Linked DNA regions of Homo sapiens. The protein of the gene in region 2 interacts with the protein of the main gene of each other region in a pairwise test. Each region holds a gene or a part of one and is shown on either strand. Other genes may lie near its edges. The genes, in order: PLCG2 and FSBP.

Region 1 (3,825 bases), on a different chromosome or scaffold from region 2:
TGAGTGGCCAGCGATGCCTTGCCACTAGAACCTTCTCCTAAAACTCATCCTGATTGACATGAGACAGGATTTTGGTTCCTGAAGTTCATGCCCTGTTAACTAAACCCCTTTCAGTACTAAAATCAGTTCACTCTTTAATTCTGCCCTTTCAGCTTCCTGATTTCTCCCGATTCCTTCCTTCTCCCTGGAGCGGCCGACAATGTCCACCACGGTCAATGTAGATTCCCTTGCGGAATATGAGAAGAGCCAGATCAAGAGAGCCCTGGAGCTGGGGACGGTGATGACTGTGTTCAGCTTCCGCAAGTCCACCCCCGAGCGGAGAACCGTCCAGGTGATCATGGAGACGCGGCAGGTGGCCTGGAGCAAGACCGCTGACAAGATCGAGGGCTTCTGTGAGTACTCGCTGGGTGGGGCAGTGTGGCCCGTCCTCTGGGGCCCTGGCCTGAGCACCTGTCCACCTTCCTGTCTTGTCATTACTGTGATTGTTGTTGGTTTGATGTGTTCTTTTATTCGTCTTAAAATGAAAGCATTGCCAGTTTGTGTGGATCTCTGATGAGGTTTACACCAGGTGGAGGAAGTTCAGCTGGGAAAACTCTGGTGAAAGAACTGAAGCTGAGGTCAGCCAACATGGAAATGGCATTCAGGCAGCTCTCCTTGCCTGGTGGTTCTGTGCCCTGTCTGACAGCATCAGGGATCGTCTGGTTCCCACAACTGGTCGAGTCATCTTTCCTCTTAAGGGCGAATTAGCCCAAGCCTGCAGAAACTCATAGCTTGGTCGCCAAATGCTACCTTGTTTTACTGCATACCATAGCAGTGAGGGGCCTTTGCTTTAGTCTCCAAGCAGGGAGAGTGAGTTGTTGAACGTTTTGTAGCTTTCAAATGCAGGTCTGGTCTTGGTAGAGGTGTCCCTCCTCCCCTACCTCCGTTTGATTGGGCAGCTGGTTCAGATCCTAAAGTTTCTAAGACTGTTTTTAACAAATAGAGTAAAGGCACTTAAGCAATTTTCAGTTGCAAATATTTGCTCTAATTTGTGTTTTTAAATTAACTAGTTTTTAATTGAAATATATATTCCTGGGGGTTAAGGAGTCAACTCAAATATTTCTCCTCCCTAAACCATCCTACTGAGGCAAGCTCATTACCAGTTACTTTTATCTTCCAAAATAGTCTATGCTTGCATAATGTGTGGGTTTAAAAAGAAAACAATTGGGAACTCTTGTACACTTCTGCACCTTGACTTCTTTTTGTTAATTAATAATGATGTTGGCGGTGGTTTCTTATCAGCACACATTGATCTCATTCTTTCTTGGACACATGACATGTAATGGCACAGGCCTCAATGTAACAGTTTAACTCCAGAGAAGGGCATTTCATGCTATTTCCAGGCTTTTGTTATTATTCGAAGTGACTATCATTGTACTCTTTTTTTTTTAAAACAAAATTAATTTTTTTGAGACAAGGTCTCTTTCTTTTACCCAGGCTGGAGTGCAATGGCATGATCATGGCTCACTGCAGCCTCAGCCCCCTGGGCTCAAGTGATCTTCCTGCCTCAGTCTCCCAAGTAGCTGGGACCATGGGAATGCACCGCCATGCCTGGATAATTTAATTTTTTTTTTTTTTTTTTGTAGAGATGGGATCTCACTATGTCCAGGCTTGTCTCCAATTCCTGTGCTCAAGTGATCCTCCCTCCTTGGCCTCCCAAAGCATTGGGATTACAGGCATGAGCCACCTCACCCAGCCTTGCACTCTTTTTTTTTTTTTTTATAATAGATTGATTGAGACATAATTCACATAGTATACATAGAATTCACCCATTGTATGCAGCATGTATAGTGTGGTGGTTTTAGTATATTTATATAAATGTGCAAGCACCACTCCAATCAAAAGTAGAACCTTTATATCACCTCAAGATGAAACCCCATACCTTTCACCATCACCCCATCCCCTCATCCCCCCTACCAGACGTAAGCAACCGTTAAATTTAATTCTGTTTCTATAAACCTCTCTATTCTGGACATTTCATAGAAATGGATCCTATGTATGTGGGCTTTTGTGACTGGCTTCTTTGACTCAGCATTTTTCAAGGTTCATCCACTTTGTTGCGTGGATCAGAAATTTTCCTTTTTGTGGCAGAATCACGATACGTTGTATGGGTATTCCACAGTTTATTCAGTCATCTGTTGACGGACCCTTGGGTTGTTGCCACCTTTTGGCTAATATAAATAGTGCTGCTAAGAATGTTTCTCTACAAGTTTTTGTGTGGATGTCTGTTTTTATTTGTTTTGGGTATATACCTAGGAGTGGAATTGCTGGGTCATACACTAACTCAGTTTCATCATTTTAGGAACTGTCAGACTGTTTTCTAAAGTGGCTGCACCATTTATATTCCTTCCAGTGGTAGAAAAGGGTGATCGTTGCATTATTCTTCATTTGTATATATGGGTATATCTGAAGGACAGCTTCCTGAAGGTTTATTTCTGAGCTGAAGGATATGGCATATATATATTTTAATAGACAGAGTCTCGCTCTGTTGCCCAGGCTGGAGTGCAGTAGTACAATGTCAGCTCACTGCAAGCTCCGCCTCCCGGATTCATGCCATTCTCCTGCCTCAGCCTCCCGAGTAGCTGGGACTACAGGCGCCCGCCACCACGCCCGGCTAATTTTTTGTATTTTTAGTAGAGACGGGGTCTCACTGTGTTAGGCAGGATGGGGGTATGGCATATTTTAACTTTAAAGGGAAGTTTGGCAGCACCCCACAAAAGAGGTTGCCCCCACTGTCTGTTTCAGCCACAGGATGTAAAAGTACCTGTTGCCTGAACCCTCATCTATGCTGCGTGGCTGCTGAACTTGGCCATCCACAGGTAGACTTTGGTAGCTTGGTGTCATCCTTAATTTGATGTATCCTATCATGAGTGTGATCAAACTGCTTTCTGAAAGGCTTTTCCTGGTTTTGGAGCCCAGTGGGTCTCTTGTGGCACAGAGCCAGAGCCCTGCTTTGGAACTGCCCATGTGGAGGTGGCCATCTTCCCTCTTGACTGTTTGCATTGGCCGGCTCCACCCCCAGGTGGCCCAGAAACCTGTTGCAGCTGGGGTGGCCACCCTCCCTTCCCCCACAAGGGGTGAGAGGGTTGGCACTGATGGTAAATACAGATGGGCCACGTTGAGACTGGACTGCAGGTTGTTCCTTTCTCTTCTCAACCTGCCCATCCCAAACCTAGCTGCCCATCAGAAACACCCAGGGGGGATCTTGTAAGTATAGGGTATTAACCATGGCATGTGTATACACCTGTGTAACAAACCTGCATGCTCTTCACATGTATCCCGGAACTTAAAGTAAAATAAAATAAAATAAATATATACAAAAAAGAAATTACAGGGTATTAGAACCTTCTTCTGAAGCTCATTGTGATGGGCATGAGACAGGATTTTGGCTTGAAATCTATGCCCTGTCATTCTCCCCTTCTGCTGAGTAATACCATTTCACTCGCTTACGCGGATGCGCTCTCTCGCTCTCTGTTTTAGAGACAGGGTCTTGCTCTGTTGCCCAGGCTAGAGAGCAATGGCCTGATCATGGTTCACTATAGTTGTGAACTCCTGGGCTCAAGTGATCCTCCTGCCCAGTCTCCCAAGTAGCTGAGACTACAGGTGAGTGCCACCATGCCTGGCTGATTTTTTAACTTTTGTGTAGATAGGGTCTTGCTATGTTGCCGAGGCTGGTCTCCAACTCCTGGCCTCAAGTGATCCTCCCACCTTGGTCTCCGAAAGTGCTGGGATTACAGACAGGAACTACCATGCCCGGCCTCAATTCATTCTTTTATTTATCTGTTC
Region 2 (3,689 bases):
TCAGTTCACTTTCAACTACTCTTCGACAAAAATTTTGAGACTAGTATGATTTAGGCACCAAGCGAGGTTCCAAAATACTCTGTTTCACTGGTTCTCAAACTTTAGCATGCATCAGAATCGCTAAAGGGTTTATTAAAAGAGATTGCTGACACCCCCAGGGTTTCTAATTCACTTGGAAATGGATTTACATTTCTAACAAGTTCTCAAGTGATGCTGATGCTGCTGGTCAGGACCCATACTTGGAAAACCATTGGTCTACTCCAAAGGCCACAAAGTGGAAGCCCAATGGCTCAGTGAGGCCCACTCACATGTTGTCTGTATAATGTTTTAAAAGCATTTTGTGTTATTTGCAAACATTTTAAAATTGGAAGATTCCTCATTAAAAAATGCAGATTTCTGGTTTATCCCCGCATGTGAAAATTCTGCTGGAGCTAAACAGCAGCTACCCTACCTAGTCCAGGGAGATGTCCTTCCTAGTCCAGGATACTACAGCCCAAATTGACTCTCTCTACATTCACTTAAAATCAATGGCTTAGCACTGCATTTGTGCTTATATACTCAATCCACTTTTTCCCATTCTTTTGTCTTTTTTCCAGCGTCTCACTCTTGACTTCAAACACCCATGGTCCCCTTCACTGCTGAAATTACACCCACCCCATTCTACAACTTGGCTTAAAAATCCCTTCTCAACAAAACCCCAGCAAAAATAGAAATTCTTAAGTAACATACATATTAGAGATTTAATATAAATTTAATATGTATGCTTTAAGAATTGAGGTTTTATTTCCATGAATACTAAAATAACAATACTTATAAAATACATAAAATTTTAATTTTGTTCATTCTGATTTTTACTGTGAAAGAAATTTTTTCCAGAACAGGACATTCAAAATGAATTAAGACATGTCTTTAAATCACACAGCCAAAATATATAATAGCTTCAATGGAATACCTTATCTATTTTGCTGGAACAAAAATAGAGAGAGAATGGGGGTAATTGATGTAATTATCCTGATTTCACAACCTAACAATCTTTAAAGGCAATTTTAATGAAAGAAATGCTTCTAATATTTAAATCTAGAGAATGTTTTAGTGGATATTTACTTCTATCGAATAGCGGGATGGAAATTACACAAAGAAAAACTAAGTGCTGGTCTCTGCTCTGCCATAAATAGCTTTGTTACCCTAAGTAAGTCATTGAGTTCTCCCTGGACCTGTTTCATTACCCCTAAACTGCAGAGATGGAAAAAAAGTGTTCTCCAAATATCTTCCATCTCTAAAATCCTAGGATTTACTCCTTCAAAAGATAAAAGCATAAAAACCAATGTCATACAGACAAGCTTCTTGGTATTAGGTTAGTATAGCTCCTAAATTAGACTGACTTAAAAATCTCTAATTATAGCTTTCAAAGTTCTAACTAAAAATGTTGAAGACTCAGAACTTTGAAAGAATATGTGTTTGTATATGCATTTGTGTATATCTTAGTGATCAGAATAAAATATCTTTTGTAAGGTCAACAATTAAACTTAGGGAAAAAAAAAAGAAGACAATAAAAACTATAACCATGCCAACCAACCAGTAAATTTTAATATCTCAAAAGAAAATAATTAGAAAATTATATCTAAAAAGTTTTTCCATAATAGAGATTAACAACATTTTTCAAGAACGTGTATTCTGTTTCAGGATATTCCCAAATTAAAGTAATTTGGCCAAAATCAAAATTATCAAATTGCAAGATTGAAAAAAAAACTTAGAGACTGTTATATTCAGGTAGATCATGCCGTAAGCGAATTGCTTTCAGCTTCTCCACTTCAATTTTTGCTCTTAGTAGCTCTTCCTCTAGCTGCTGCCTTCTTTTCAATCCATCCCTCTTCTCCTGAACATACAATCCAAAATTTTTTTGATTTTCTAAAATTATCTGATGCTCCTCTTTCAACATTTGCAGGATCTGAGGATCATACCCTAATAGTGACCTAAAGTGTTCACCACTCTCATGCCGAAAAAAATCATCTCTCCTTGGAATAGAAGATGGAGACGATGTCATTCTCATATCAACAGAGGAAAGTGAAGGCGACAAGGATCTTTCCATAACATGTACTAATTCATGTTCTTCTCTTTGCTCTAAAGTATCACTCTGTTGAGAATTTAAAACCAGTGGAGGAGGTGGTTTAATGTCTTCTTCTTGCTTCACCTCCACTGTAATAGCAACAGGATGGTGATCCAACATTACCTGTAGTGAACTGGTACCAGCCTGTGCCTCCTCATCCAAGTTTGCACTATAGCACACAAAAAAGCATTATAATATGTAAATCAAATGAAGAAAAAGTGTATATTTATAGCATAATTTTAATTTAATGTACATTAAATGATAAAGCTTTAAAACTATAAAGTTACAAAATAAAAAAAAATCTTAAACACTTGAAATACATTAAAGTGACTAAGATTGGGATTTCAATAATACATACTCACAGATCTCCCCCATCCTTAACTTTAAAATTGTGCTTTAAAGGAGCAGGAAATTACAAATATTATAGAAGGCCAATGAAGAAAATAAAAAGAAAAGCCAGTTTTCATGTTGTCAAACAGACACCAATCTTTCCCACAACCCTAAGGTTTTCAAATGGTGTACAGAGCCATTTAATGCATTCTCAGTCTTGTTATCCCCATACCTTAGCCCTAGACCTCAGGCTTCTGCTCTCCTGGACTGATCTTAAAACCATGAAGGCCCATAACTTATAAAAGGACAGTGAAAGGCCATCTATGGGAGGTACTGATTTCTGCATTTGCCCAAAAAATAAAACATAAAGATTGTATATGGCTTTGGGATATGCTCAACTACTGGAGGTTATCCTAACTTTCTTATTTCAGATGCTTTTATCTGATAGGAAAAACTTCCGTTTTACCTATTCTGAACCATATGACTCAGATGCTGTTTAAGTCTTTCAATCACTGGTCAGGTAAAGTTCACAAGAGCAATGGTTTTAATCCACAACTGTATACTCAGTACCTAGCAGGTACTGTACTTAGAACCTAGTAGGTGCTCATTATGTGTTGAATGACTGAAAAAAAACAAACTAAATGATTTTTTAATGAAACATTTTTAATGGCCTATACAGATATATTAAAGGTTTATTAAATTTACACATAATTTCCACCAAATATGCATTCCCAATGGAGACAACTACAGCTTTAGCATAATTTAAGCTTCAGCATAACAAGTTATGATATTATAAATGCAATAAACCTTAAAATTCTGTTTTATAAACATAATTTTATGTATAACGTGAAGCTGTGAATTAAGAATATCTGCTCCTTGAGGTTGTTTTTTTTAATTTATGCTTCTGCCTAACTTAAAAATAAAAGTTATAAAGGGAAATTAGATCATTGAACATGAATGGAAATACTTTATTTAATATTATTTAGAGAAGATTTTACATATAATAAGAAACATAATTAAAAGAATACATTCTACATGGATGATTAAAATGCTGGAACAAGTTCAAGCAGAATGCATAGAAAAAGATTAAAACTACCCATACGTTACTTACTAATGCCATTAAATTGCCAGAAATATCAGATATTTATCTAAGAGACAAAATGAAACATATATAGTATATAATAAAAAATCTATTTGTAGGTTATATAAATTCATTTTTGTTCTTGTCTCTGTTTGTGTCATTTTATTATTT

What was found.
Region 1: the proteins of FSBP (region 2) and PLCG2 interact in a two-hybrid assay, tested with the Homo sapiens proteins (one large-scale study listed by IntAct).

What each region holds. Positions count from the first base shown.
Region 1 is NC_000016.10:81,785,791-81,789,615, forward strand, and holds part of PLCG2 (1-phosphatidylinositol 4,5-bisphosphate phosphodiesterase gamma-2), read left to right. Parts: intron 1-152; 5' UTR 153-199; coding exon 200-392; intron 393-3,825. UniProt on the Homo sapiens protein: The production of the second messenger molecules diacylglycerol (DAG) and inositol 1,4,5-trisphosphate (IP3) is mediated by activated phosphatidylinositol-specific phospholipase C enzymes. It is a crucial enzyme in transmembrane signaling.
Region 2 is NC_000008.11:94,430,381-94,434,069, forward strand, and holds part of FSBP (fibrinogen silencer-binding protein), read right to left. Parts: intron 2,277-3,689; coding exon 1,751-2,276; 3' UTR 1-1,750. UniProt on the Homo sapiens protein: Transcriptional repressor that down-regulates the expression of the fibrinogen gamma chain. Represses transcription of GSK3B gene promoter via its interaction with APBA1.